5 separate regions of the Homo sapiens genome follow, and all the other regions are linked to region 1. Evidence: fine-mapped expression QTL. A gene starts in region 1. Each other region holds a variant in brackets. All regions are shown on one strand. Distances are from middle to middle.

Evidence for each region.
Region 2: its variant is fine-mapped to the expression of MGAT4A in whole blood (TOPMed, PIP 0.96).
Region 3: its variant is fine-mapped to the expression of MGAT4A in whole blood (TOPMed, PIP 0.94).
Region 4: its variant is fine-mapped to the expression of MGAT4A in whole blood (TOPMed, PIP above 0.99).
Region 5: its variant is fine-mapped to the expression of MGAT4A in whole blood (TOPMed, PIP above 0.99).

The regions. Positions count from the first base shown.
Region 1 is chr2:98,728,415-98,733,518 of GRCh38, reverse strand. It overlaps MGAT4A (alpha-1,3-mannosyl-glycoprotein 4-beta-N-acetylglucosaminyltransferase A), which reads left to right and starts at 2,387. Exons shown (of 16, transcript NM_012214.3): 1 at 2,387-2,471. It overlaps LOC107985922 (a long non-coding RNA gene), which reads right to left and starts at 2,238. Exons shown (of 2, transcript XR_007087150.1): 1 at 1,824-2,238. RefSeq lists silencers at 1,439-1,733, 1,840-2,029, 2,050-2,379.
Region 2 is chr2:98,650,957-98,656,060 of GRCh38, reverse strand. MGAT4A (alpha-1,3-mannosyl-glycoprotein 4-beta-N-acetylglucosaminyltransferase A) reads left to right here. Exons shown (of 16, transcript NM_012214.3): 8 at 541-616. Among named protein-coding and RNA genes, the nearest start is that of UNC50, 45 kb to the right of the region's middle. The variant C/A (reference allele first, on the strand shown) is at 2,483.
Region 3 is chr2:98,754,918-98,760,021 of GRCh38, reverse strand. No RefSeq gene overlaps it. Among named protein-coding and RNA genes, the nearest start is that of LINC02611, 14 kb to the left of the region's middle. The variant C/T (reference allele first, on the strand shown) is at 2,374.
Region 4 is chr2:98,671,749-98,676,852 of GRCh38, reverse strand. MGAT4A (alpha-1,3-mannosyl-glycoprotein 4-beta-N-acetylglucosaminyltransferase A) reads left to right here. Exons shown (of 16, transcript NM_012214.3): 4 at 1,678-1,818. Among named protein-coding and RNA genes, the nearest start is that of MGAT4A, 57 kb to the left of the region's middle. The variant T/C (reference allele first, on the strand shown) is at 2,794.
Region 5 is chr2:98,697,306-98,702,409 of GRCh38, reverse strand. All of the region lies in intron 2 of MGAT4A (alpha-1,3-mannosyl-glycoprotein 4-beta-N-acetylglucosaminyltransferase A), which reads left to right. It overlaps LOC124906050 (a long non-coding RNA gene), which reads right to left. Exons shown (of 3, transcript XR_007087149.1): 1 at 3,302-5,104; 2 at 280-531. Among named protein-coding and RNA genes, the nearest start is that of MGAT4A, 31 kb to the left of the region's middle. The variant C/T (reference allele first, on the strand shown) is at 2,534.

The DNA of each region.
Region 1 (5,104 bases):
ATTTTGTAACTTGCTGAAGATGTGAGCAGAGAGATAGTCTGGAGGGGTGATGTAGGGGCTCTGGAATCAAACAGACCTGGATTTGAACTCTGATTCAAACATTTACTAATTGCCTAAATTACTGTTTGTATCTGTCAAATGTCTTAATTTCTCAGGGCCTCAGTTTCTTCGTGAATAAAATAGGGATAATAGCTCCTGTTCCATTTGGTCTTTTGGGTAATTCATGAAAATGGCTTGGGGGCATTCTCCATGATGTTATCAAATGGCAGGACTTTCTTCCTCTGCAAGAAGTAGTTTGCTTGTCTGTCATTAAGAGCACTGTAATAGCAAAGCCTAGAATCATCTATTCCTAGGAGATATTTTAGGCAGGATATATCCAACAATGTATTAAAAGCTTTACCTTGGAATGGTCTCAGTCTTTACCTCTGTTTACATCTGGTCATGAATCAAATTGCCAGCTTGCTACTTGGCAATGGCTTTGTCATAGAATACAGGAAACCTGGCTTTCAGGTCCCCAATGTATTCGTCCGTTTTCATGCTGCTGATAAAGACATACCCAAGACTGGGCAACGGACAAAAGAGGTTCAATGGAGTTACAGTTCCACATGGCAGGGGAGGCCTCACAATCATGGTGGAAGGCAAGGAGGAGCAAGTCACTTCTTACATGGATGGTGGCAGGCAAAGAGAGTTTGTGCAGCAAAACTCCCTTTTTTAAAACCATCAGATTTCGTGAGACTTATTCACTATCACGAGAACAGCATGGGAAAGACCCTCCCCCATGATTCAATTACCTCCCACCAGGTTCCTCCCACCACACAGGAATTGTGGGATTTACAATTCAAGATGATATTTGGGTGGGGACACAGCCAAACCGGAAGTAGAGAGAAAACACACTCAAAGTAGAGGGAAGAGCTGTCATTGGATATCATGGCTGTGATCCCCCAAGTTGTGTCCACAGTGCTGGGCAGTGGACAGATCTTTTGGTATGGTTCCCCTAAACTAGTAAGAGACTATGGGAGCAGGGATGTTACGTGTCTCTTCCTGAAGTTTTAAATTAGCCGTCATGGAGAAACCTCAACATGGGAAGGCTGATAACTCCATGCATGTTCTAGCTGATTATTAATTATTCTTATCTTGAGATAAAAATAATGGAATTTATCGGAGGTGGGGAGGGGACCCTGTTCTGATTGATGCCTCTTAAGAGTTTTCGATTATTGAAATTACTGTTTTCTGAAAAGAATCTACTTATTACTTTGGGAGTTTGGCAGGAACAAGGCTGCCTCCTTGATCTTTGGCCCCTCAATTCCCTTACAGGTTACTCGGTAGGATTGCTGTAAGGATTATTGCGGCAATAAAGTTAACACATCCCTTGTTTTTGAACCATTACCAGCTGTGTGACCTTGGGCAAGCCCTTTCACCTCTCAGCTAGTTTCCTCTTATGAAAAATGGGGAATAAATTTAAAACATGAGATATGCAATAAACGATCTAACACCCATGCCTGCTATACGGTTGCCTGCTATACAGTTAAGTATTCAAAAGAGGACGTACCCAGGGGTAGTTACTGTTAGCACAAGTCCTATGGATACTATGAAAAACAGGGACAGACCACCCAGGCTTTCTACAAACGAGTCAGTTTTTTGCCTTTGAAGTTAACCTCTAACCTTGTGAAACGGCGACAGATAAGGACATGGGGTTCAAGAAAACGGGGCATAGTGGAAAATCAGGGGCATTAGCACCCAACGATGTGCGTTGAAACCCTAGTTGTTTTTCTCCTTCCCAGTTGCTGAAATCAGCCCTTCTGGCCGATTCGCGGGGTTCTCACCGGGAAGTTGGGGCTGTCGCGACCGTCCGCGGGGCCTCGGGAGCTCCTGTGGGGCTGGGCCCGGGACCTGTCCCCGGGGAGGCCGCCCAGTTTGGGCGGCCCGGAGCGGGGCGCGCCGCTGGGAAGGGGCCGGGTCGAGGCAGGCAGGCGCCTGGGAGCTGGGGCAGCCCCGGGTGGTCGGGTCGCGCGCCGAGGCGCAGGCCGAGGGCTCGCCCGGGCCTTTGTTGGCCGCCGGAGCGGTCCCTGCACGCGCCGGGAGGATCTCAGCCAGATGTGGCAGCGGGGCGGCGGGGAGCAGGCCGGCGCCCAGAGCTGGGACCCGAGACCGCGGCTCCGCTCCGGACCTCGCCGTGACACCGATGAGCCGGGCCAGCCTCCCGAACGCTCCGCAGGCTGCGTGGCGGCGCCCCTAAGTGACAGTCGCGCGGGCCACTGGTGGGGCGCGGGGCGCGGGGCGCGGGGCCCGCGGGGCCGGCCAATGGCTGGCGGGGTCGGGGCGGCCCGGCGGGGCGGGGCGGGGCGGGCGCTCCAGCGGCGGGGGCGGAGCCGGCGGGGCGGGCGGGGCGGCCCGCAGCGGCGGCGGCAGCGGCGGCGGCGGCTACAGCAGCTCCGCCGGCAGCCGCGGGAGCACGGCGACGCCAGCGGCGGGTGAGGGGCTCGCGGCGGCAGCGGCGGCGCGCGGGGGCGGGAGGGGGCGCGGGGCGGCTGCGCGGAGGGCGCGGGAGTTGGGGGCGGCGCCGGCGGCCGGGCTGGCGGCCCCGGGCTGCGGGAGATCCACCTGCTGGTAAAGGAGCCTACTGCGCCGCGGCCCGGCCGGAGCTCTGTGCGGGGGAGCTGTTGGCGCCTCTGGGCGCGGGGCCGGCTCCGGGAGCGGCTGGGCCTCGGGGGCGGGCGGCGGGGCGCGGGCCGGGCCGTCCTCCCAGCGTCCCTGCCCCGCACCGCGCACCCCTCGGGGTCGCGCGCCCTCTCTGCGGCCGGCTCGGCGCCTGGTGCGTTCCTGGCGCTCCCCGGCGTGGCGGGGCTCGGCGACTTTGGGGGAAAGTGGAGCAAAGTGCTGATCCGGGGGGTGCGGAGGGGGAGGGACAGCTGCCTGTGGGACCCGGGGGCTGCGCGGGAGTCGGCGCTTTCGCGGGGGCCGCGGGGCAGGTGGGCGGGGCCGGACGGTCCGAGGCGCAGGGGCAGGGGCTGCTCCCGAGGGGACCGGCCGTGCAGCCTTCGCAGGGAATTTTCACACAAAGTGAAGGGCTGCGGGGCCCGCGTGAAAGAGCAGCCCCCGTTTCCCCAGGCCTCAGCTCTCTCCGTAATGAGGAAGCTGCAGTAGGACCCTGAGGCTGGGTCTCGGTGACTCCACCAAGTGTGCCAGGTGACATCTCGGAGGCGAGCTTTTCTGAGCTGGCAGTCGAGCCACTTGCACACCCGCCTTTATTCCTCGCAACAGTGTGTTTCTCTGGAGCGGTTTCATTGCCTACATTCCGCATTGGAAAATAGAAGCAGGCACAATGTATGCTTTGAATGCTTTCCACGTATTTTGCTGTTGTGCTTTTGCTGTTGGACAGATTATTTGATAAAAGATAATGACAGTCGTTCGTTGGAACGTAGACTGTAAATTTAGAATAAAAATATGCGTTTTGTGGTTTATGTTTCTTTTTCTGAATGTTTAAAAAACAGTTTGATGAACAGGTTATCTTGACATAGATTTCTTTAACCCACACGTGTAAACCCGAAAACGCACTGGGCGATGACATTACGTAAGCTGTATTAAAGAAAACTACTGACCCGTTTATAAATGGCAAATAAATGAATTTTGCCACAATTGTGGTGTGTAAAGTTATATAGGCTTACGTCATGGATTTTATTGATTCCAGATATCAGGGATTATTGTGCCTTTCATTCTTAAGTCACCTCTACCCTGTCTGTGGGATGCTGATTAAGGAAGATGCCAAACGTTCGGCAAAGTGTTCTCAGCCGTGGACTATATTGAGTATTTCAGAGAACACTTTAAAATAAGTAAAGGTTTTGTATCCAATAATAAAATGAAGACTGAAGCCCTTAAAGGATTGCTAACAAAACAGTCTGATGTCTAGAGTTGAAAGTTCCATTCACCTTTGGGAGGGTGGAGAAATGACTAGCAATTTTAGCCACTACCTTTTTTTGTTGTTGTTAAAGATTCAAACGTGTTAGATTATAGTCTCCGAGAATATTAAGGGGCTAGATTAAAATTTTTGCAAATGTGGACACTAATAAAAATGTGGGTCACCTGTGTCTTACAAGCCAGCCTGTGAATTATGTCTCATAATTGAAGAGTGAGTAGATCCTTGGTTTTACTCTTGTCCGAAGAGTTTCTTCACTTGTGCCGTGCAGTTAAACTTATTAGCTGGGAAACCCTAATTAAAAATGTATGACTACATTCTTACTGAGTAAAACACGCATATTTTTCTTGCAAAATTTCAGGGCTTATTTGCTAGTAGAATTTATTGTAAGTATCTTCAGAGTTTCATAACTTACTGGATCCAGTATTTTTTTTTTTTCATATATTAGGGGTAGTATATCAATAGTTTACTTTGGTTTTAGAGTTCATTTACTTGTCTCTATGCATTTCTACGGAATGTTTTTACAAGCTTTATTTGTATTTAGTAAAACTTTTAAAATATCCTTAACTATATGATGTGCGCTCTACCTCCCCGTTATTATGAATTGAGTGCTTACTCTAATAACCTGTATGCTTTTTAGATCTTTTACTAGAACAAAATTCTTTCTCAAGTAAAATAGGGCTAAGTAGATAGCAGCTGAAAGTTATAAGTATTTTAATATAATGCCACACCGGGATTAATGTTCCAAGTTATATAATTCATAGAATTATCACCCGTGTTTTTATAATCAGAATTCATTATTGGGTGCTTATTGATTTAAGACAATTAGAGCAGTCTTGCTATGAAGTTTTTTTTTTTTTTCAAACTGAGTCTCTGTCACCCAGGCTGGAGTGCAGTGGTGTGATCTCGGCTCACTGCAACCTCTGCCTCCCAGGTTCAAGTAATTCTCCTGCCTCAGCCTCCCGAGTAAGCTGGGATTACAGGCACCTGCCACCACTCCTGGCTAATTTTTGTATTTTTAATAGAGACAGGGTTTCGTCATGTTGGCCAGGCTGGCCTTGAACTCCTGACCTCGGGTAATCTGCCTGCCTCAGCCTCCCAAAGTGCTAGGATTACAGGCATGAGCCACCACACCTGGCCACTGTGAAGATTTTAATTCTAAACTGTAGACGTGGGCATGTTTGATGTTAA
Region 2 (5,104 bases), 77 kb after region 1:
AATTTAAATATGAATTTTTTAAAGCATTCAGTACCTATTTGTGAACTTTGATCTGCGTGCAAACAGTCCTAGGCACCAGAATAGGGACCCTAAAATTGTAATTTTTGAAGCACTCATTTGATGAAACATTAAGATATTACTGAAAAAAGGGTCTGTGGTCAAGGAAGTTTGGAAAAATATGTATTAAGAATTTTTTTCCCAATAAATGTCTTTACCGTTGGATATTTTTGTGCCTCTTATGAATTAATATGTTTCTAGAAGGGGAACATGTATACATACTTACTTGATATTAGACTCATTTTTTTCCTCAGGACAGCTTGAGAATTAGTGTTCTTGGGAATACATTTTGATAAAGTCTTCATTAGAGGAAAGTGAATTTTCTTTGACTCTTCGTCCTAAGTGAGTGTGTGTGTATGTGTGTGTGTGTACACATATACATAGATGACATGTTATGTAGACATTTGACATTTATACATTTAATCTTATTTTACTAAATTTGAGTCTGATTCCTAACTTACTTTTTGAAAATGTTTATTTCAGATGGAGAACAAAGCAAAACCTAGATTACTGTTTTCTAATGATGTATGCTCAAGAAAAGGGCATATATTACATTCAGGTAAGTGTAGTTTTTCCTTTGTTTTTCATGCTTGTAAAGAAAAAGTGTTATCAAGGGTATGTTTTCATTAAAACAGGAAGTTTTGAAAGTGCAAACCCTCTGAGATCTGACAAATCATAACTATCTCAGAGCAGAGGGGTCTCCATGGTAACTGAGCATGTGGGCTCTGATGTTTCTCCACTGAGTAGGGAAGCCAGCCCTCCACTTAGCGGGGGACCTGCAACTCACTTATCTTTTTCCTCTTTTTCTCCCATTCCCCCATCTTCTCTTCCCTCTTCCCTCTCTCCACTGTCAAGAAGAACTAAGATGTCATTATTTGGCAGATTTTAAAGAGGAATTTTCTTACAATTTTTCTTTAGTGGTCTTACAATGAACTAATTTTTTTTTGTAGGCCACAATACTGTTACCACTATTTTGAAGATAATAAAATTGACATTTAATTCTAACAGTCCAATTATTTTTAGCAGCACAACAGTCCAATTTTTACCAAGAACACAATATGTCATGGGATTACAGACACGAGCTGCTGCACCTGACATGTAGCATGTTTTAAAATTAGGAAGTATGAGGCCTCCAACTGTGTTCCCTTTTTTTTAAGACTATTTTGGCTGTTTAGGGTCACTTCAGACTCCATGTAAATTTGAGGAGGATTTTTTTCTATTTCTGTAAAAAATGCCTTGGGAATTTTGGTAGGGATTGTATTGAATCTGTAGATCGCTTTAGGTAGTGTGGACATTTTAATATTATTAAGTCTTCCAATACATGAGCACAAGATGTCTTTCCATTTATTTGTATCTTCTTTGATTTCTTTTAGAAATGTTTTGTAGAAAAATTTTCCACCTCCCCAGTTAGGTTTATTCCTAAGTATTTTATCTTTTTTGATACTACAGTAAATGGCATTGTTTTCTTGATTTTTTTTTTGGATTGGTCATTGTTAGTATACAAAAATACAACTATTTTTGTGTGTTGATTTTGTATCCTGAAACTTTGCTGAAATCATTTATTGCTTGTAGTTTTTGGTGGATTCTTTAGGTTTTTCTACATATAAGATTATTTCATCTGCAAATAATGATAATTTTACTTCTTCTTTTCCGGTTTGGGTACCTTTTACTTTTTTTACTTGTTTAATTGCTCTAGTTAGGATTTCCAGCACTATGTTGACTAGTAGTGGTGAAAGTGGGACTCCTTGCCCTGCTTCTAATCTTAGAGGGAAAGCTTTCATTTGTTTGCTGCCAAGTGTGATATTACCGATGGGCTTTTCATATATTACCTTTATTTTGTTGAATAAGTTTTTTTCTATTTCTAGTTCGTCACATTTTTTTTAATCAAGAAAGTGTCTTGAATGTTGTCAAATGCTTTTCCATACCAATTGAGATGATCATGTGTTTTTTTCCTCCATTTTGTTAATGTAGTATATGTTACACTGATTGATTTTTGTGTGTTGAACGATCCCTGTATTGCAGGTATAAATCCCACTTGGTTATGGTGTATATAATTCTTTTAATGTGCATTTTAATTCCATTTGCTAGTGTTCTGTTGAGGATTTTTGCATCAGGGATATTGGTCTGTAGTTTTCTTGTGTCTTTGTCTGGCTTTGGTGTCAGAGAAATGCAGGCCTCCTAGAATGTGTTTGAAAAGTGTTCCCTCTGTTTCAGTTCTTTGGAAGATAGCTGTTTGAGGAAGATTGATGTTAATTCTTTAAGTGTTCAGCAGAATTTTCCAGTGAAGTTCTCTGGTCCTGGGTTTTTCTTTGCTGAGAGGTTTTTGATTACTGCTTTAATCCCCTTAGTTATTATAAGTGTGTTCAAAGTTTTTATTTCTCCATGATTCACCCATGGAAAATTGTTTTTAGAGGTTTATCCATTT[C/A]TTGTAGATTATCCAATTTGTTGGCACATAATTGTTCCTAGTAGTCTCTTGTAATTCTTCTATTTCTGTGATATCAGTTGTTATGTTCCCTCTTTCATTTCTACTTTTAGTTATTTGAATCTTCTTTTTTTCTTAGCTAATCTAGCTAAGGGTTTATTAATTTTATTGATCTTTTCAAAAACCAACTCTAGGTTTCTTTGGGTTTTTTTCTGCTTTTTTTTTTCTATTTATTTATTTTTTTCTATTTATTTATCTGATCTAATCTTTATTTTTTTTTCTCCCTTCTGCTAATTTTGGGTTTAGTTTGTTTCTTTTTTTCAATTTCCTTGAGGTTGAAGTTAGGTTGCTGATTTTGAGATCTTTCTTCTTTTTTTTAATGTAAATGTTTACTGGTATAAACTTCCCTCTTTGTATGGCTTTTGCTATATATCATACATTTTGGTATATTTTTTTTTTTGTTTTCGTTTGTTTCTGGATTTTTTTCTAAATCCCTTGTGATTTCTTCTTTGACCCATTGGTTGTTTAGGGGCGAGTTGTTTAATTTCCACACATTTGTGTATTTTCTGGGTTTACTTTTCTGCTATTGACTTCTAGTTTCATTTTGTTGTAGTCAGAGAAGATACATTGCATAGTTTTAGTCTTCTTAAATTTGTTGGTGGGCGGCACTGGCTCACACCTGTAATCCCAACACTTTGGGAGGCTGAGGTGGGCAGGTCACTTGAGTTCAGGAGTTCAAGAGTTCAAGACCAGTCTGGGCAACATGACGAAATCCTGTCTCTAATAAAAATACAAAAAATTCACTGGGCATGGTGGTGCATACCAGTAGTCCCACCTACTCGGGAGTCTGAGGTGGGAGTATCAGTTGAGCCCAGGAGATTGAGGCTACAGTGAGCCTTGTGCTCTCCAGCCTGGGTGACAGAGTGAAAACCTGTCTTAAAAAAAATTGTTGGCTGGGCACGGTGGCCCACGCCTGTAATCCCAGCACTTTGGGAGGCTGAGGTGGGCAGATCACAAGGTCAGGAGATCGAGACCATCCTGGCTAACACGGTGAAACTCCGTCTCTACTAAAAATACAAAAAATTAGCCGGGCGTGGTGGCGGGCGCCTAGTAGTCCCAGCTACTAGGGAGGCTGAGGCAGGAGAATGGCGTGAACCCGGGAGGTGGAGCTTGCAGTGAGCCGAGATAGCGCCACTGCACTCCAGCCTGGGCGACACAGTGAGACTCTGTCTCAAAAAAAAAAAAAAAAAAAAATTGTTGAGATATTATGGGGCCTAACATGTGGTCTGTCTTGGAGAATGTTCCATATGCTCTTGAGAAGAATGTGTATTCTGCTGTTGTTGGGATCAGTGTTCTTTATGTCTGTCGGGTCCGTTTGATTATAGTGTTGTTTAAGTCCGATGTTTCCTTATTGATCTTCTGTCTGATCTATCCATAACTGAAGTAGAATATTGAAACCCCCTAGTATTATTGTGGTGGTGTTTGTTTCTTCTTTCAATTCTGTCAGTGTTGACTTCATATATCTGAGACCTCTATTATTAGGTGCATCTTTATTTAGAATTGTTATGTCTTTTCAGAGATTTGACTGACCCTTTTATTATTGTACAATGTCCTTCTTTGTCTCTTGTGACAGTTTTTGTCTTAAAGTCTTATTTTGTCTAAGTATGGCCATCCTTGTTTTCTTTCAGTTCTGGATTTCATGAATTATCTTTTTTCATTCTTTCACTTTTAACCTATGTGTGTCTTTTGATGTAAAGTAAGTTTCTTGTAGATAGTATATTAATAGATCTCATTAAAAATTTCCATTTGGCCTAACTGTGTCTTTTAATTGGGATGTTTGACCCATTTACATTTTTAGTGATTACTAATACAGAAAGACTTACTATTGCCATTTACTTTATTTTTTTGTATGTCTTGGAACTTTTTGTCTATCTTTTCCTCTCTTGCTGCTTTCTTTTGTGTTTCGTTGATTTTTTAAAATAGTGACGTATTTTGATTCCCTTTCTATTTCCTTTTGTGTATATTCAATAGATACTCATTTTGTAGTTACCATTGCAATTACATATCTTAAAGTTATAACAGTCTATTTATTACTTCAATGACAAATAAAATCTCTACTCTTTTACATCTCTGTCTCCCCTGCACTCTATTTTACCAATGACACCAGTGACCGCTTTTTATATTGCATATACATTAACTCAGATTTATAATTATTGTTTGTGCTTTTAGTCTTTAAGAAGTGATTTTAATGTGATCAAAAGATTTGAAAGGGGTACCAGATTTTAAAGTGATTCATGCACCTGCATTACCTTACTACGTCTATATTTATCTGTATATTTACCTTTACCAGGGAGTTTTATATTTTTATATGGTGCTTTATTACTGCTTATTGACCTTTCACTTCAACTTGAAAATGTTCCTTCAGCAGTAGGGCAGGTCTAGTGGTGATGAACTCACTCAGCTTTTGTTTATCTGGGAAAGTCTTAATTTCTTTCTTTCTTTCTTTCTTTTTTTTTTGAGATGGAGTCTTGCTCTGTTCCCCAGGCTGGAGTGCAGTGGCACAATCCCAGCTCACTGCAACCTCCACCTTGCTGCGCCCAGCCTGAACATTCTTTTTTTCTTTTC
Region 3 (5,104 bases), 27 kb before region 1:
GGCACGTGCAAAAATGCTGCATCCAGCTTGTTTGAACAATTGCAGTTGTTCAATTTCATTCAGACCAATTAGGCTATATTTTTAGTATGATTATTCAAAGCATTGGTACTCCTTAGACAAAATCTTAGCTAACAAAAGTTAGCTGGAATGAAAATTTTACAGAAAGTAGAATATCTTTGTTACCAAAGGGAAGTTTATTTTGATAAAATTAAAAAGGCCAGGTACAGAATAACATGCAACTTAAAACTATCACGAGTGGGACAGTGTAGACGTGAGAAGAAGATGCCTTTGGGGCCAATGGGCCTGCATTCACATTTTATTTTTGCCACCCTTTTCTTTGGTGACTTTATTACCTTTAAAATGGGAAAGATACACATGTACCTTCCAAGTTACAGGACGGATTTACATTCTTGGCACCATAAATATTAGTTCCTTTTTTTTCTACATCAGTGAGAAAGGATGTGGTAAAACAGGGGGAAAAAAAATAGGCAAGGCCTTTGTGTTTTTGCTTTTTTTGTGGTCTAATTTCTTTTAACAAATAACAGTTGTTTTTCTGATTAGGAAAGTAACACATTCATTGTAGAACACTTGGAATATTCAGAAAAAAATGTATTTTTTTTTAAATCGCCAGTAATTCTACCACCAGAGATAAATACTATGAATGTTTTTGTTTGCACTAAGCACACCTATGTGATTGGGATAATATTATTACCTAAAGTGTTGTGTTCCACTTTTCATGCATGTGCTCTTTTTACATTCTATTTTATTTTGAGACAGGATCTCACTCTGTCACCCAGGCTGGAGTGCAGTGGTGGCATCACAGCTCACTACAGCCTCAAACTCCTGGGCTCAAGCAATCCTCCCACCTCAGCCTCCCAAGTAGCTGGGACCACAGGTGTGCACCAACACACCTGGTTAATTTTTTGTATTTTTTGTAGAGACAGGGTCTCACTGTGTTGCCCAGGCTGGTCTCCAGCTCCTGGCCTCAAGTGATCCACTTGCCTTGGCCTCCCAGAGTGCTGGGATTGTAAGTGTGTACCACTGTGCCTGGTCTGTACTCTCGTTTTTAAAAAGACTCCTCAAAAACGTTGGAATTTTCCTTATTTTAAAAATACTGTTGAAGAACATAACTTAATGGTTATATAATAATATTTCACTATATTGCTGTACCATGTTTTATTTAGTCCTATTTTTGGACAGCTAGGCTGTCTCCAAATTTTCTCAATACAGAAATTCTACATAATATTCTTGCACACAAATTTTGGTCCACATCTGTTGACGTCTTTAGGATAAGTTCCTAAGAGTGGAATGAGCAACTCTAAGGGTTTTTTAAGTGGTCCTGACTTATATTGCTAAATTACTTTTCCAAAAGATTATGGTAGTTGATGGCCCTACTATGAGTGAATGGTAATTTTTGTACCGTCTGGTCTCAGAACCAAACCATCAGCTACATTTTTAAAATAATGAATTGAGAATGGATGAATTGTAGGCACATATGGGGGTTCTATTTCTCTTTCTATGGGACTCTAGGTATGATTTTCCCATTTTTGTAATTAGGATATACGGCTCCAGGAAATTGAGAGTGAGCCAGATAGTTTCTGGAGAAGTCAACTGTACCGAGGCCAGGAAACACTAGTCATCCCTGAGGGTCAAACACAGTTATGTACTAAGAATGAGGAAGTCCCACACAAAGTGGCAAGATGCTGGGTTAGCCCACAGTCTTAAGAGGGAAACCTGTTCCAGACATGACTTCCGCCCTTGGCAGATGAGGCTTCTGGTTGCCTGCCAATTATAACTAGCTAGAAACAGCATCACGGAGAAACAGTAAAGCAACAGCAAGGTGGCGGCTGGAGACTCGGGCATGAGGCCCAAGGCCAGGAGAGGAGCAGCGGGTGGGAAAAGCCTGAAGGAGGGGCTGGGTCTAGACCAGCTAGCAATCCCACAGCAGCCAATAGCCCAGCCTGCTGGAGAAGAGATTTCTAGAAATGCAAAAGTTTTCACATGCAACCACGAAAGCAGTTCACGGGCGTTCCTGGCACTGTCAGGAGGAAGTCAGGATCACACAGGGTGCACCTGGAAAGCAGCTGCCCTCCCCAAGTTTGACCTGGGCTAGCAGCTGGTACTGCCATGTGGGCTCTGGGTTTTATGAAGTTGCAACACCAGAACCAGGAATTTGGGGAAGATAAAATAGAAACAGAGAAAATATTTATATTTATTTAGACGAGAGATGTGCACAAACCACAAGCCCTGGAGATGCAGGGCGTCTAAACCATTGCCATTATTTCAGTAGCTTTAGGAGAGTTCGCAAGGTAGCTAATGATAAGAAACAGGAGAAAATCATTCTCCAACCCTCACAAACGAAAATGTCTGATC[C/T]GAGCACCCGTGGCTGTCTCACTGCTTAACCCTTCCAAAGAATAAACATGAAGTACTCTTCAGTATGGCTATGGGAAGAGCACATCCTGTTGCATTAGGAAACTTTAATTACTAAGTTTGATAAATCAAAGGTTGTCATTTACATGATACATCTTAACTTCAGCAAGAGGTTTAAACTCATCTCACATAAATCACTCAACAACCAGAAAAATACGGTCCTGATGTTGGCATGAGAGAACACACAAAGAATGTTTTCAAAGGCTGATCTTGGGCCAATATAGCTTAAATTTTCATCAGTGATGATAGAGGAGGGTGCAAGAGTAAATGAATAAAAGAGACAACCCAGTATGGGGTTAAAACAGTAACTAGCCATTGAAGATAGGGGGAAGTGAGGGGTAAGTCAACAGAAATCAGTAGTATAGACATATAGAATGAAGTTTGATAGCATCACTTGCCTTTAAAAATGAACAAATTAAGAAAATAACAAATGGAGTGAACACACAGCCTAGTAAAACATTCACTGTCTGGAGTCTCCAAGAATAAGCCACCCTAGGAAGCTAGGTTTCCCATCTGAGAAACCTTAAATAACTAATCTTAGGTTTCATCCATTCGTAATGGAAAGTTTTCAAGAATGTGTCACTCATTTCTCTGCTTTTTTAAAGAATGTGATGGGCCGGGTGTGGTGGCTCGCACCTGTAATCCCAGCATTTTGGGAGGCCGAGGTGGGTGGATCACCTGAGGTCAGGAGTTCAAGACCAGCCTAACCAACATGGTGAAACCCAGTCTCTATTAAAAATACAAAATTAGCTGGGCATGGTGGCACATGCCTGTAATCCCAGCTACTCGGGAGGCTGAAGCAGGAGACTTGCTTGAACCTGAGAGGCAGAGGTTGCAGTGAGCCGAGATTTTCCATGGAGTAAATTTGCTCCATAACTTGTATACGAGAATGATCTAGGGTGCCTGTAGGTTCAGGCAAGTGAGTAGCTAGATTTAAAGTATGCCATACTTTAAGAGTTACATCAGGAGTGTCTAGCAATAAAGCCTGATATTTTAATGAGTCCCCCTGTCATCCACTGGTGTCTTTTAGTTTCTAGGACTCCTTGTACTTGGTGTGGGGTTAAAACCTCCAGATGTTGTCTTAAAGCCAGTTTATTGTTTCATCTACTAAGGCAGTTGCTGCAACTGCCCTGAGGTATCCAGGCCATCTTGAAGTGACATGGTCTAGTCGTTTAGAAAAATATGTCACTGGTCAGGGAATAGCTCCCAATTTCTGGACAAAGACACCTAGGGCAGTGCTTTGTTTTTCAGTCATATAAAGGAAAAGCGGCTTATCAAAATTAGGGATCCCTAGGGCTGGGGTTGATCCCAATTTCTCCTTGAGAGTTTTAAAAACCTGTTCACAATTACTATCCCATTCAAAAGGACCTACATCTGCTCCTTTCAGAGTCTCATCAAAAGGCTTGCCTATATGCCCAAATCCAACTACCCATAAAGAGCAGAATCCTGCCATCCCTAGGAAAGTCCACAGGTGTTTTCTAGTTTGGGGTTTTGGAATGTCCAAGATAGTTTCCCTTCATTCTGGTGTTATTGTCAGGGGTTGGAACTTATTCTGAGTATTTAATCTCTTGAGTTGAAATCTGGGCTTTGTGTGGTGAGACCCTGTACTTACTAGTTCCCAGAAAGTTTAGTAACTGAATGGTATTTTTGTCCAAGTTTCTTTTAGTTGAGCTAGTAACCAACAAGTCACTCACCTATTGGGTAATAGTGTTTTTACTTAATTGTACCATTTTAAATTCTCTAGGTAGTGCATTTTTAAACAGATTAGGGTTGTCCCTAGACCCCTGGGGAAGAACTGTCCAAGTTAATTAAGAAACTAAATGGCTATCAGTATCAGTCTTTTCAAAAGTAAAGATGAATTGTGAATCAGGGTGTACTGGAATGCAAAAAAAAAGGTCCCTGGGCTAACAGCGTGTAGGGATTGGGCACTGTAGTATGTATAGGAATGATAGTCTCATTGACAGCTCAAAGATCTTGAACAAATCTGTAGTCTCCATTTGGCTTTTTAACTGGCAAGATTGGTGTATGACAAGGAGATTCACAGGGCCTTAACAACCCAAACTGCAAAAACTTAGCAATTAGTGGTTGGATCCCTCTTTATGTCTCTGGCTTTAAGGGGTATTGTCTCTTCCATGGGTGTGGGACACCAGGCTTAAGTTGGATGCAAACTGGGGGAAGGTTTAGCATTTTGCCTGTAACTTTAGTGACCCATACTATAGGATTTACTTGGGAGGTTACTTCAACAGGTAAAGTAGGTAAGCCCCTTTGACTCTCCTCCCTTAACAAAGGAAAGGAGAAGGAACAACCCCTAGTCTGTCTTTTGATTTCCAAAAGATACCACTGTTTGCAATTCAGTTAACAATCCCTTCCCAACAAGGGGGTGAAGCATTCAGGTATGATAAGAAAGGCATGTGAGAAAACCAAAGTTGTTAAGGGATAGGTAAAATGGCATTTATGGGCTTGTCCATCTATCCCCGTGACCATACAGTTTTGGGGTGACAGAATCCCATTATAATGGGTCAAAACAGAGCAAGCAGCCCCCATGTCCAAAAGCAAGTTAACAGTCTTACCTGCCACGTCGAGGGTTACCCAGGGCTCCTTCGGAGATATGGCTAGTTGTCCAATGGGAGTTGTGGCAGAAGGTCCCAGGCCCCGTCACTCTTGGGCTTGCCTG
Region 4 (5,104 bases), 57 kb after region 1:
CATTTTTTGTTTCCTTCTAGTATTTTTTCCGTGAATGTTTTTCTTCAAAATTGTTATTGTGTATGATGGCCTGATTTTCACTCTTGAAATTATACTATGAGCATTTTAAAACTTTGTCATTAATCTTCAAAATATTATTTTTAGTGGCTGTGAATGTGCCAGCTATATATACCACAATATATTAAACATTTTTTTCTACAGTTATTCAAATGGGTTTTTCTGGGTTGTTTTTCCCCCCTAGTTTATAACTCTGATGAACATATTTGTATATAAAGCAATCATATTTCTGGTAACCTTTAAGTTATTTTCATTAGATTATGATCTTCTTAGAAATAGGATCTGTGTTTTGATGACTTCATTTTTGAACAAATGATACATTTGCTGGAATAAAATAGATAATCACTAAATATTTGTTGAATGCATAGAAGCTAAATTCTTAAAAGGGAAATTACTGAGTAATAGGACAGAAATGTTTTAAGGTTTTTGCTGCTGTTTTGAATAGTTGGAACATTTATCTTGTTATCACCAATATTTAATATATTTAATCTGCTAATTTCATAGGTAGAAATTGATATAATTTGTAATTGTTTCTTTACGCATGAGATTAAACTTTAATTTTACATATGACAGTCATTTGCATTTCTTTCGTGAATTTTTGGTTCTTCTCATATTTTTAATGAAGTTGAGGTAACAAATTCCTACTGCTAGCTTGCTTTTTTCTAAGGTTAAATTCAAATTTAATGAAATTTTAAAACAATATTATTTCTACTACCAAGTTTTTATTTCATATCATTAAATGATTCATTGGTTCCTCTAATAAAAACAGAAACATCCTATGTATAAAATGGAGTGAGAAAAAAAATGAAACTATTTGAAAGTTGTGATCTGTACTGGATATTCTCAACTTGTGCTGTTTATATTATTTTACTTGAAGTTTTCAGAAAAAAAATTCCTTCCATGTGAAATTTTGATAACATGTAATGCATAAAGAAAGTGAATGGTTGAGCATGATAGCTCATGCCTGTAATCCCAGCACTTTGGAAGGCCAAGACAGGAGGATTGCTTGAGCCAGGAGTTTGAGACCAGCCTGGGCAACATAGTGAGACTCCCGTCTGTACAAAAAAAATTTTTTTTTTAAATTAGCTGATGTGGTAGCATGTGCCTGCAGTCCCAGGTACTCAGGAGGCTGAGGTGGGGAGGATCTCTTGAGCCTGGGAGGTCAAGGCGACAGTGAACCGTGATTGTGCCAGTGGACACCAGCCTGGGCTACAGAGCAAGACCCTGTCACAAAAAAAAAAAAAGAAAATGGAAGTGATTGATGGTTAATGTACTTATTATTTATTACATTTTCATAAGCCAACAGTATATTTAGAGTCTGTTTGGCAAACTTGAGTTCTAATACATTATAGAGGTGAGCCCTTAGCATCCCACCTTCTTACGGTCCTCTAGCTGGCCATTTTGGTTTCCTTCAGCCAGTTTTATCAACATCATGACCTGTGAGACTTTGGCTTTGAAAGTGTCCTTTTCATCTTAAATGGAGATCTCATTCACCAGAGTGTGAAACTAGGAAAGAAAATTCTTTAGTTCTAGTTCTTATTAATTTTTACTGCTGGTTTTATAAAATCAGCAACTTCTGTAAGGTAATTCTTGTATATTAATTATACTTCTGTGTTTCAGATAATACCCTAAAGCTGTTAAAGGAGTTAACAAGCAAAAAATCTCTTCAAGTGCCAAGTATTTATTATCATTTGCCTCATTTATTGAAAAATGAAGGAAGTCTTCAACCTGCTGTACAGATTGGCAACGGAAGAACAGGAGGTATGTTTATTTTGTTTCTTACTGCAGTTGTACTACTGCTGTTAAATGTGTTTTGGACTATTATGTTGACCATCAGAAGTCTGGGAGGTCAAAAAATGAAAGTTCTTTCTTTATCTGTGCACATCAGATCATTCTAAACTCCATGTTGAAAGGAATTGGACATTTTCCTTCATAGACCAAAGTAATACAGCTGAAAGGGATCATGTGAAATCTAGTTCAGGCCCCATCCCAGGCAGACAAATGTTGACACCTTTGTCATTTTTCTGTTTAAGAAACTTGGGAAGTACAGAGATGACTTGCCTTGTATCTTATTTCAAAATTAACAGCTCTTTTGGTCATGTCATAAAGGTTTTTCTTATGTCTGCCCCACTTTTCCTACAGAGGTGTAAGTAGATAGTAACTTTTATGTAACTTTTTATGGAGTAGTAGAAATACTTTGATTTGCTTCTTTTTTCCTAATTTATTCAAAAGATAATATATAGCTTATTTTTCTCTTCTTGTCAGAGGCAACAGAACTTCTTCAGTTTTCCTTATAGAAACTATTTACCACTCTTTTTGTTTGTTTGTTTGAAGCAACGTAAGGACAGATTTATTGAAACCAAAGTACACTCCACAGAGTGGAAGTGGGCTTGAGCAAGCAGCCCAAGAGCCGTTTACCACTCATACATTTGATTCCGCTGTTTTGACTTTGTTAATCTTTTCTTTGTAGATTTTAAAATGCAGAGGGCAGAATATTATTTTGTTCTTCTGTAAGTTTTTAACAAGTGATGAAATGATAACTTCATAGATATCAAGATTCATTTTTGGGTTAGTGTTTTTGAAAAGCTGGGTCTACTTTTGATTCAATGGGATTCTTAAGTATTTTGCTGTCTTATTTGGGGGATCACATCTTCTCATTGATCTATAAATGTAAGCTTTTACATTCATCTTGTCTTAGTTCTGCTGTCTTTCTATTTCATTAATCAGTTGAAATAA[T/C]ATACTACCTTCCTTCTTAAGGAGGTGGAAACTCTTAAAATAGCATGTTGAGACAAACTCCATCTTTCCTTTCTCTAATGATTCAAAAAATATTTATTGAAGCCAGGCATTCTGCAGGTGCCAGGTATACAGAGACTAACAAGGTGTGTGTGGTACTTTGTTTTTTGTTTTTTTTAGAATGTTGATTGTTAATTATTTTTGAAGCTGATATCATCTCTCCCTTTAATAGTCACTTTTTGGGTAAGATGTCTTAAGTAGTTGTGGGTTTGTTTGTTTACACTATTTCTTCATTCATAAGAGTATCAAATGAAAAGAAATTAGAAGTGTTTTTAAAGTCATTTAAAATGTCCAAGGTCTCTAATAGGTTTTTATTTTGTAAATGTGACATTCTCTTTCTTTTGAAGCTATGTATTCCATCCCATTTGTTTACATGACTTTATCCATTATAAATATAATAAAATCTTGGTCAACCAGCTTTCCAATAGTTAACATTCTTATAAAGCTGCTACTATTTTTGAAAGGTAGAAAAAACAGCTTGGTAGAAAAAATAACCCATATTTACGTTAAACATTTTCCTCCCTAAATCATTAGGAAAAGCTCTTAATATTTTTAGTTACAGGACCTTTTGGATATTCTAGGAAAGCTGTCAATCTCTACTTTGGAAAATGCCCATAGAAAATATAATTTTATTTGTAATTTCTGGGGTTTTATGGAACCCCAGAACTTATCTAGGGCTTCATATTCAGAACTTCTGTTTCTTAGATAAAGAAAAACAGCTTCTTGCTAAAAATTCTGTTTTCCAGTGGTCAGGCTGATTAATTAGGGAACAGCACTTAGAATAGCTAAGCCATTGTAAGGCTGAAGAGGAAGGACAGTGCTGCCGGTGGCTGCTGACCCCAGGGGAGCGGCTGGGATTCTCAATGCCCAGAACAGAAAACTGTCGGCGCACCACCCAGCACCACATCTGTATCCTTCCACCACATTCTCCAAGGCAGGCTGCGGCAAACAAACCCAGCGACTACAAGCAGGTGCAAGGGCGACTTCAGCAACAAGGGGTTGCTGAATAATTTAGGAAAATTAGTACCACGAATGACTTAATACTAAAGAAAATTGAGTTTGCAGAACAAACTGAATATGATTTAAAAATAAAGCATCAACATATTTTTAGAAATGAGGGAGGAGAACTTGCCCATAACACAATAACTGACCATTATCAAAGGATCCGTTAGAAATTTTTGTGCTTATGATTTCAATGATTATATTTAAAAATCCTACATCGAGGGACTGATATGGAATTTTAGCTAGACATAGCTAAAGATCAAATTAGTGATCAGAAAGACCGAGCTGTGTATTTCTTCCAGAATGCAGCATAAACGCATAAAGAATGGAAGTAGACAAAAGTTTTAATGTTCATCTGGTAGTCATTTCAGAAGGAGTGAACAAAGAGAGTGAAAAGAGGGAATTACCAGCTTATAGAAGTAAATTTCTTTGAGTTGAAGAAACCTTCAGGTTTTCAGGTTAAAGGGCCCATTCAGGGTAGAGCAAGAGGGCTGAGCAAAGACTCTCATTGGGTTATCTACCAAAACGGCACAACTGCTTCGTAGAGGATAACAGATAATTCTTGAAGTATTTGCTGCAATGAAAGTCCATGAGCAATTGCTATGGGCCAGGCACCTTGCCAGATACTTTGGTACACAAAATTAGATGTGGTTCCGAGTCTTGTGGAGCTTCAGCCCAGTAAAGAAAACACGTATTAGTCACATAGTCAATTATACAAACAACTGTATAATTATAACTTTAATTACCGATGTAAAGGATGCTTTGAGAATGTGTAAGAGGGACTTTTGGCCTAATTAGGGAGTTTAAGGAACTCTGAGAAATTACGTTTGGCCTGAGGCTGGTAGAATCTATCATTTACTGGTGAAGATGGGTGTGTTGGTGTTCTATTGCTGTTGTAACAAATTGCCACAAACTCACTGTGTTTAAACCACAACACAGATTTCTCATCTTACAGTTTGGGAAGGCAGAAGTCCTAACACCAGGTTGTCAAGAGGGGTGTGTTCCTTCTGGAATCTCTAGGGGAGGATCCTTTTTTTTTTTTTTTTTTTTTTTTTTTGCCTTTTCCACATTACTTTGTGGCCTCTTCCTTCATCGTCAAAGTACAGTATCTTCAAATCTCTCTGACCATGACCCTCTTGATTCTGTTGTTCCATCTCTTTCTTTCACTCTGACCCTCCCTCCTTCCTTTCATAAAGACGCTTGTGATTATATTGGGCCCACTAGCTAATCCAGAATAATCACCCCATCTCAA
Region 5 (5,104 bases), 31 kb after region 1:
AGTCTCCAGCTGGTGTGCCAGTCCATTGCTTGTCCCAGATAGAACAGCAGCCTCATGGCAGCAGGCCTCTGGCCCTCCGTGCTGCTTGCCTGCCTCTGGGCTTGCTGCTCTCACTGACAACACTGCAAATCCAATGAGTCCCTGCCAGCAGTGGCAGTGAGTTTGCTAGTTTTCAAGGCCTGCCCCACGCCTGTTAAACTTCTGAATTGACAGAGCTGAGGGCAGGGCAGATGAGGGCAGCTCTTGGCAGGAAAAGTCACAGACTTGTGCTGTTCTCACCTGGAGTCCAGTGGGTTTCATGAATAAACACTTCTCAGTTTGTTGAATGTCTTGCTTGCTTTCCAGAGCACCAACTAGGTTGTTTTTGACTCTTGACCAGCTTTATAGTTGCTTTGTGGGAAGAGGATTTGTGAGCCTTCTCACTCTGTTATGCTAGAAGTTAGACATCCCCTGGGAAGTTCTCGAACGTGCCCCTAGGTAATTCTGATTGGCAGCCAGGGTTAGGCACCAGCACACCTGGGACTCTTTGAGCTGTAAATATACACATACAACATCAGGGCATAAGAAAGTTTTTGCCATATTGACTTTCTAAAAAGAAGAGTCTTGAATGTTTCAGGTGTTATAAATAAGGACCTAATTTTAAAACAGGACCTAACTAGGGTCTAGAATGTAGACCTAGCCTCTGCCAAATTGGTCAGCAGCCTTTCTTGCTGATATGTTAAAGTTTGCCGATTTAGACCTTGCACTTGGCATGGTATTATTTTATTTTATGTTCAGCTTAGTTGGCTAGCATCCATTTCCTGAAACAGACTCCTAATCTAATTTTTCCAGGTTGGAAAGCTTCTTAAGCAGTACATGTGCTGTGCTCAGAGGTTGTCTGGAATCTGTTTGAGGTATTCTTAACTCTGAAAGGATATTATTCATGGCCGACATATGAGAGGGGACTACACTGAGAACATTGGGTTATTACAGAACATTAACTGATTTTTTTGTGCTGCTTCAGAAACATTACTAATCAGGTTTTGGGGATGTGAGTAATTGTCCAGTTCTAGACCCATTGTGCAATGGATACAGTGGATAAAGTTGCACTGGACTCTGAAACCAGTAGTGGACAAGAATAGCATAAAAAAGAGACTAATAGATCAGCCTTACCTAATAGGATGAAATCTTAAATAAAATACCAATGAACTAAATCTTTAGAGCAGTGTTAAACATTTTTGGTATATTTTCTTTCATTTTTTCTGGATTAGTGGTTCTGAGCATGTGATCCAAGGACCTGTGGGGATCTCTAGACCCTTTCAGGAGGTTCATGAAGTGAAGACCATTTTTATAATAGCCTTTTCCACTCTCATAAGAAATAGCAGAAGCAGATGAGAACTCAGCTGTATTCTATTCAGCTGAATTAAAGAGATGTGAGCAAATGTCACTCTTTTCACTAATTTTTTTAAGAAAACAATTATTTTTAATAAAATGCATTATTTATGCTAACATGTAATAGATTGTTTTTTTTTTTTTTTTGAGACAGAGTCTTACTCTTGTTCCCCAGACTGGAGTGTAGTGGCGCGATCTCGGCTCACTGCAACCTCCGCCTCCCGGGTTCAAGCGATTCTCCTGCCTCAGCCTCCTGAGTAGCTGGGATTACAGGTGCCCGCCACCACGGCTGGCTAATTTTTGTACTTTTAGTAGAGATGGGGTTTTGCCATGTTAGCCAGGCTGGTCTCAAACTGCTGACCTCAGGTAATCCACCTCCCTTGGCCTTCCAAAGTGCTGGGATTACACGCATGAGCCACCGCGCCCAGCCAACATGTAATAGACTTTTAAATGAATTTTAAATACATCTTTAAAAAGTTAATTGGTTTTGATTTGCAATATGGTAAATGTTGATTGATATAATTCACATAAACAAAAGGTCTTTGGGGTTGTCTAATTTTGAAGACAGTGTAAAGGGGTTCTGAGACCTACCTTATAGATAGATAGATAGACAGATAATGCAATATATACTAATATAATATAGAGTATATACTAATATGATATCATATATAGTAAATACTCATATGGTATTTATAGTATATATGAATATATTATATATAGTATATATTATATATATAGTCAACTAAAGGAAAAAATCAAGCTTTTAAAGAATTAAAGTTAATTTTACTCAGAAGTCTTGCTAAGGACTATAGCCCGAGGCTGGCAGCCTGGGAGTGGTCCTTTGGAGAGGTCTTGTGAGATGGCCCCTGCACAGTGTTCCAGCCACTGCTTATATGCAGGTAGTGCAGGACCATTCCAGGTAAAATCATATCGCACTTGCTCAGAAAGTTCCATAAAAGCGGAATCATGAGGTTTGGGTATGAGAGGATATCTGGTTATAGCTTGCAGAAGCATACTCACTAACCCCGTCAGATGTTATCTCACGTGCAGAAAAAGGCAAGGACGGGTCACGTATCCTATAAGAAACATCGTGACTCAGGCAAGAGATGTGGTGGGCCATGTGCTCTACCCTATTTTGTCTTCAAAACATTCTTCCAGGGAG[C/T]ATTTTGTCACATACTCGGGGTTCAAGCGGAAATGGCAAACATGGCTTCCTATGTTTGCTAATTTGTCTCACAGTACTACATATGTGTCTCCCTCAAAAAATGGGATTGGCCTCATACTGTGCATATTGTATAATGTACATTTTTTGCTTAATATCACAAATGTTTCCCATACCATGAATTGTAGTGGGTCCATAATATTCCATTTTACAATTACCATAATTAGCTTAATCTTATAAGTAATGGTATAACAAATTTTATGCATATTATTGATCAATTTTTAAATACATTTTTTTAGTTTAAGAGGATTTGCCTCTTGTTACTTATTGCTTGGCATTCTGTAAGGCAATGGCATTTAGGGGGAAAAAAAAAAGACTAAAATATGATTCCTGCTGTGCAGAAAAGAGTTAACATGGCAAATCTGAGACTGCTAATTATCAGAAAGCCTGGCTTGAAAGGCTGGTCCTCGGCTGGCCTCTGGGAACTTGGCTGATAAACCCTGATAATAACCTTTCCCTATATGAGAAGAGTGGCTCAGTGTGCCTAAACTATTTGTACAAGTTGTGTGGTTATGCTGAACACCTGGTTTCCTTATTGGAGTCTGAAATTTTGGTATGTACTAGGCAGCGGGTGCCTATGTGACCAGCCCGCAGTAATAGCCTTTGACATTGAGTCTCCAATGAGCTTTCGTGGTAGACAACACAACACATTGCACGTGTTGTCAGCACTCGCTACTGTGGGAAGGAAGTGTGTCCTGAGTCACTGCATACCTGGTTTCTTCCAAACTTCTCTCCGTGTGTCTTTTCCCTGTGCTGCAACTCAATGGTGAGTCCTGTGAGTCCTTCAAGTGAATCACTGAACCTGGGGATAGTCTTAGGAACTCCTGACAAACCTGCTGTTAAGGAACTCATAGCTGAGGAGGGAAAAAGAGATAAGTATGTAATTATAGTACAGTTTGTGTTGATATAAAATAGTGTAGTTAACAAGATAAAAAGGAGCTAAAGAGAGGATAGAGGTCAGAGAAAACTTCACAGGAAGACAATGAAAGAGTATTTTGAAGGATGCATGGAATTTTTTCCAGTAAAGAAAGAGAAGGTGGATCTGGTAGGCAGACAGCATGAACGTAGAGCAATGAAACTCATAGTAAGTGGGCTTGGAGCACTCCAAGCAGCTTGGTAATACTGAAGCAAGAAAGATCCTGGGCAACGTGAGGAGATCATGTTGGAGAGTTAAGTAGGTAGTCATTGAAGGGTTTCCATTTAGAAATGTAAGGTACAGAGGATAATGAAGGGGAAAATGAAAAGGCATGGGTAACAGTTTCGTGTTCCTGGTCAGGAGATGAATAAAAGGAGCGTTGATACTGGGATCTGTGTAAAGAAGAGAGGATTAATGAGCATTAATGTAAGCAAATGTGAGGAGATTTCAGAGCATATTTATTTATTTTTAATTAATTTTATTTTTTGAGACGGAGTCTTGCTCTGTTGCCCAGGCTGCAGTGCAGTGATGCAATCTCAGCTCACTGCAACCTCTGCCACCTGGGTTCAAGTGATTTTTTTCTGCCTCAGCCTCCCAAGTAGCTGGGATTACAGGTGCACATCACCACACCTGGCTAATTTCTGTATTTTTAGTAGAGACGGGTTTTCACCGTGTTGGCCAGGCTGGTCTTGAAACTCTTGGCCTCAAATGATCTGCCTCTCTTAGCCTCCCAAAGTGCTGGAATTTTTTTATAGGCATGAGCCACCACACCCAGCCAGCTTATCACTACTTCTGGTTCTTCTGCACTTGAATCATCAAATGCAAATATCAGTTTTTGAAAACTGACAGCTAACAATTTTGAAAAGAGAATGGCCATCTTTTCAGTTGTAAAACATTTTATTAGGTTTATAAACAGCAATTAGAATGATCAAGTCAATGAAAAATTTTTTAACATTCGCTCTCTTTCTAATCACTTTTGTGTGTACATCAACCTTTAGCATTTGTCTTCTTATGAACCCATCCAGTTAATCTTGTTGTATGAATACACAGTAGACAAAAGAGTACTGTTACACATCCTCTTAGTAAGGCAGTGTTCTGGGCTCCTCTGACAAACGTTGTGGTGAAGTCCTTTCAGTTGAATGACCCACTGGATGAACATGCCCTATTTTCTTTTTGCCCTTAATAATAATTATTTGTTCGTTGGTTCTTTTCTGCTTTGCTTTTTCAAAAACCTATTTAAAAATAATTGTAGAACTAAAGGAAGCTGCAAAGACAGAGAGATACAGTGCAAACTTCACCCATCTTTCCCTGACAGTTACTTCTTGGGATAACTTATGTGTATATAATGTACAATATCAAAATCAGGAAATTGACATTGGTATTATGAGTGTGGATAGTTCTGTGTCCTTTTATCATGTCTAGATTCTTGTAACCACCACTATAGAACAATTCTATCACCACAAAGATCTCCCCTGTGGTGTCGATAGTCACACCAACCCCTGCATCCCCCATCATCCCTAACCCCTGGGAACCTAGTCTATTATCCTTCACTATAACTTTGTCATTTTGGAAATGTTATTATAAATGGAGTCATACAG